Regions from separate parts of the Homo sapiens genome. Here region 2 is linked to region 1. The links come from fine-mapping of genetic effects on gene expression. Tissue or cell type: whole blood. Region 1 holds a variant in brackets; the other region holds the start of a gene. All regions are shown on one strand. Distances are between the middles of the regions.

What was found. PIP is the estimated chance that this variant, and not a neighbour inherited with it, causes the effect.
Region 2: AAR2 starts here. The variant in region 1 is fine-mapped to the expression of AAR2 in whole blood (TOPMed, PIP above 0.99).

What each region holds. Positions count from the first base shown.
Region 1 is chr20:35,987,120-35,989,878 of GRCh38, forward strand. CNBD2 (cyclic nucleotide binding domain containing 2) reads left to right here. Exons shown (of 12, transcript NM_001365709.1): 7 at 276-414. Among named protein-coding and RNA genes, the nearest start is that of CNBD2, 20 kb to the left of the region's middle. The variant G/A (reference allele first, on the strand shown) is at 1,661.
Region 2 is chr20:36,235,158-36,237,657 of GRCh38, forward strand. AAR2 (AAR2 splicing factor) reads left to right here and starts at 1,321. Exons shown (of 4, transcript NM_001271874.2): 1 at 1,321-1,346. It overlaps LOC105372602 (a long non-coding RNA gene), which reads right to left and starts at 1,309. Exons shown (of 3, transcript XR_936695.2): 1 at 1,201-1,309.

The DNA of each region.
Region 1 (2,759 bases):
GAAAAGCACAGAGGCTGGATCACCCAGGGGCATCTGAGCAGCAGTAAAGAGGGGAGCTTGGCTGGAGGGGAGGGCCTTGGGAAAAGGAGGAGGGAGCCAAGGTGATAGCAGGTAGGAGAATGGCTACAGGCAAGGCCAGGTAATTGGGCAGGTAGCAGCGAAATCTTCCACCCAGGCATCCTCCACAGGAGAAGAGTATGTGCCCTCTGCAGATTGCTAAGGTCTGGGCACCTTGTGTGATGGAGTTGATGAATTCTAACAGGCTCTTCCCACAGGAAGATGGAGCTGTTTGCATCATGGTCTGATGAGAAGCTCTGGCAGCTGGTAGCCATGGCGAAGATAGAGAGGTTCTCGTATGGGCAGCTGATCTCAAAAGATTTTGGAGAGTCACCCTTCATCATGTTTATCAGCAAGGTGAAAAGTCTGGGGGTTGGGATGAGGGTGAACCTCTGAGGAGCATGCCTAAGATCATGTCCTGTGACCTGATGGTCAGAGTTTGAGCCCTTTTCTGCAACCTGTGCAATTCACTTCCTTCTCAGAGTTTCCATGTCCCAGCTGTAAGAGGCCTGCCTCTCACAGAGCATGGCTAGAGACATTAGATATATGGCTATTGTGTTAGAAAGAGGACCAAGGGATTCTCCCGCCTTGAGCTCCTAAGCATGCTTATTTACATATAGATGCATATTTAAATTATGCATTTGGCTGTTGAATCTTAGTGATGCCAGATCACTTTTAAATTTATTTATTTATTTATTTATTTATTTTGAGACAAGAGTCTCGCTGTTGTCAGCCCAGGCTGGAGTGCAATGGCACAATCTTGGCTCACTGCAACCTCTGCCTCCTGGGTTTCAGCAATTCTTCTGCCTCACCCTCCTGAGTAGCTGAGATTACAGGTGCCTGCCACCATGCCCGGCTAATTTTTGTACTTTTAGTAGAGACGGGGTTTCACCATGTTGGACAGGCTGGTGTCGATCTCCTGACCTCAGGTGATCTGCCTGCCTCGGCCTCCCAAAGTGCTGGGATTACAGGCATGAGCCACCAGGCCCAGCCTATTTATTTTTGAGACAGAGTCTTGCTCACTCTGTGCCCCAAACTGGAGTGCAGTGACGAGATCTTGGCTCACTGCAACCTCTGCCTCCTGGGTTCAAGTGATTCTCCTGCCTCAGCCTCCAGAGTAGCTAGGACTATAGGTATGTGCCACCATGCCTGGCTAATTTTTTTTTGTATTTTTAGTAGAGATGGGGTTTCGTCATACTGGCCAGGCTGGTTTCAAACTCATGGCCTCAAGTGATCTGCCTGCCTCAGCCTCCCAAAGTGCTGGGATTACAGATGTTAGCCACCACACCCAACCTTAAATTATCTTTAAATTGTAAAAGTGATATGACCACATTAGGAAACTTTCTGGAAAAAGGGAAGAAATCATCCATAAACCCATCATCTCAGAGTAGAGTTTCAAAATGGAATTTCTTGGTATCATGATTTTGTTTTGTAAGGCAGACTTTATTCAAAGGGGCCATAGCCATAGGTATAGGGACCACTGCAATGGAGTCTTGCAGCCAGAGACAGAGATTGGACTCAACTCTCAGTATCGTAATTTTTATGGCTCCTGCAACAAATTGCATTCCAAAAGGAGAGCCCCACCTTATCTAGTGTCCAGGAT[G/A]TACATTTTTGTTGGTGCCATCACAGCTCTGCCAGCCTTGCATGTCATTTTTTCAAAAGTTTTCTAGTTTAATAGGTCGCAATTGCTGCCATACTGAGGATTTGATATTTTTTCTGATTACTAGTGAGATTTATCATGTTTGTTTATGACCTACATTTTATCTTTTGCAAATTGCTTCACGTCCTTTGCCACCTTCTCTGTTGGTTGATAATGAAAAGAAAATCTCCCATTTCTCAAGTGCTTACTGTATGCCAGGTTCTATGTTTCACATGCTTCATCTCATTTTAGTCTCTATAGCCCGGAGGAGGTTAGTATTGTCATTATTCCCATTTTACAGAGGAGGAAACTGAGGCACAGTAAGGTGAAGTGGTTATCCAAGGTCACACAGCTGATGAAGTGCAGAGGCAGGGTTCAACCCAAGTCTCTCTGACTGCAAAGATATTTTCAAGAACTTGGATTTAGGATTTGGGCTGACCTTTCTGTCTGGTTCTTACAGATTAAGCCACCACAGGCATTTGTTGAGTTTTTGCCAAGGTCATGACACATTGGTCCAGGCTCTGGAGGGATACAAAGATGAAAAAGACTGGTTTTCTCTCTTTATAGATCTCCTCCACCAGATTCCACACATAGACAAAGAAAAGTGTCAATGCCAAGTACCAAGTGATTGGTGCAAACTCTGCAAGTTACAAGATTTCAGGAGAGGGAACTCTCTAAAGGCTGGAGGCTTTAAGAAGGGCTTCCTGGAGGAGGTGAGGTGGGAGATGAGCCCTGACATATTGAACCATTAGGCAAAAGGAGGAAGCAAGATTGGTTGTGTGCTGGCACTGGCTTGTACCTGCCTATGAGAGCTGATTGTTAAATTTTCAGGAATTTTGGTAAACATAGTAATTATTACAAATTAGATGCTATAAACCTACAATTAAATAAGTTATATGGAAAATTAGGAGCTGGGCATGGTGGCTGATGCCCATAGTCTTAACGACTCAGGAGACTCATGCAGGAAGATCATTTGAGCCCAGGAGTTTGAAAGCAGCCTGGGCAACATAGCAAGACCCTATCTCTAAGAAAGAAAGACAGATGAGAGAGGGAGAGAGAGAGA
Region 2 (2,500 bases), 250 kb after region 1:
AGACAGATTGGCGTGTCCAGCTGTCACTGAGGAAATGTGACAGACAAGCTAAGGAGCAGCAGCACAAGAGATAAGAACAGACAGCCCTTGGTTTGCATTCTAGCTCTGCCATTCTCTGGCTGTGTAACATCTCTTTGAACCTCAGTTTTCTCTTCTGCAAATTGGGAATACACATACCTTACAAGGGTTAGTGCAAGGATTATAAATACCCAAGTGGGCCGGGCACGGTGGCTCATGCCTGTAATCCCAGCACTTTGAGAGGCCAAGGTGGGCAGATCACCTGAGGTCAGGAGTTCGAAACCAGCCTGGCCAACAAGATGAAACCCCGTCTCTACTAAAAATACAAAAATTAGCCAGGCACGGTGGTGGGCGCCTGTAATCCCAGCTACTTGGGAGGCTGAGGCAGGAGAATGGCTTGAACCCAGGAGGTGGAGGTTGCAGTGAGCCGAGATAGCGCCATTGCACTCCAGCCTGGGTGACAGAGTGAGATTGCGTCTCAAAAAAAGAAATACCCAAGTGGCCTGCCCTAAAATCACATAAGCCAATTCTTGGCAATAAATCACTTAATATAGATCTCCTACTGGCTCTGTATCTTTGGTGGAACCCTGATTAATAGTGCAGGGTTAGACCCACAAATAGTTATTTATTAATACCAAATTATCATCATTATTAATTAAATGCATAATATATGTACTCAGCTGAGCTTTTGTGCCTGGCTTTGTGCTCGGTTCCAGGGAAACAGTGAGGAACAAGACAGGCAGATTCCTTCCCTAGTGCGTTGATAGCCTGACTGAGATGTTAGGACTTGGCCTGCAGGAAGGACACGGGGTGATAATGGCCAGAGGGACTGAGGTGGCGACCGCTGCTGCTGCAGCAGCGGAGGCTGACGCTGGTTCTCTCTGGGCTGGTGGCTGGGTTTCTGAGGCTCTCCCCGAGGGCTGAGTGTGACTGGAAGCTGAGACACTGTGACCGGGATAGAGACTGGCTGACAAAGACAGTGACCGAGCGCCTGACTGGCTACTTCTGAATAGTAGCCACTGGTACAAGCCTTGGCTGTGCTTTAGTGACCATGACTGCTTGAGCCCAAAGTAAGATGGCTGGTGGCTGTGTTTCTGGACGGGGATATAAAATGCATAGGTTAATGAAAGTTGTTCACAATTCAGAAGCTAAAACGAGAAACTAAGAATAACAAAAGGCAACCTTGCATCCGGCGGAACCTGCAGGCACGGGCCATTCTTCCCGCGACCCAGGGCTCTGCCGGACCGCTTCCCCCGTCGCTCCAGTCAGACGCCAAAGCTGGAGAACTTCCGGTGCGTTTCCGCTGTACCGGAACGTGGGGCGAGGCGGTGAGTGTGGCCTCCTGGCCTCTTTTTCCTTTCCTGATTCCTTGTGTATGTGTGGCTGGGCCGCCCCTCTTCTCGGCTCAGAGTCACGGAGTGCCTTGAACTAGGCCCACCTCGCCGGGGCGGCTGGTTCTCTGTTTGTGGGACGCTGGTGTCTCTGGAGGCCCTTCCTGAGAAGCCGTCGCCAGAGTTACGTCGCGGTTTTCTTAACTTTAGAGCCTGGGGGCCGGAGACCCTGATTGCACTCGACCTGGCTCTGCCCTACTCTCTGCGTGACTTCCAGTAAGGTCTTTCCCCGAACTGAGGCTTTGTTTCTCGTTTACAAAATGGATATCATACTTGTATTAAATAAATGTTTACTAAGCGTTGAATCTGTGCTAGGGATACAGCAGGACTCAAGTCTCGTGGCGATGACAGCCTTCAATCAAACATCCAAAACTGCAGTTGTGATCATTGAGACGGAAAGGTACAAGGCACCCCAGATTATATCACAGGAGACCTGACCTAGCCCCAGGGCAAGGAACCTTTACTGAGGAGGTGAATATTGAGCTGAGATCAGAAAAAAGGATTTGACAAAGTGGGGAGGGAAGAGTTTTCTATATGGAGACAGCCTCCAATTTCAGGTTCTGAAAGAGGCCGTTGTGGCTGGAACAGAGAGCTTGTGGGGGACCATTGTGTGACACAAGCTAAAGGGGTTGCCAGGAGTCAGACCGTGCAGGCTTTGTAGGTAATAGGAAGAATTCTGGTTTTTCAAGAACCATATGGGAAACCACTCAGAAGCTGACATGGGTGGTGTTGTGATTAGATTGGCATTTTGAAAAGGTTACTGCTGTTGAATGGAGAATGGGTTGAGGAGCAAGCACTCTGAGTGAGGGACGATGGTAGCTTGGATTAGGGAGGTGGTGGAGAGAAGTGGATGGATGTGACTTTAGGTGTTCCAGGACTGTGAGGAACTCACAGAGCTGTCAGTGACAGGGGCTGGTAGACTGCAGAGTTCTATGCATATTTAATAAACGTTTTCCTAGCATCTCCTCTGTGCTAGGCCCTGTGCCAGCTGCTGGAGATATAGTGAATAGAATTACAGACTGGTGGAATTAGCATGAAAGAAACGTCATTATCAAGGAGGAGCACACAGATGTCACAAGGGAAAATGGCTA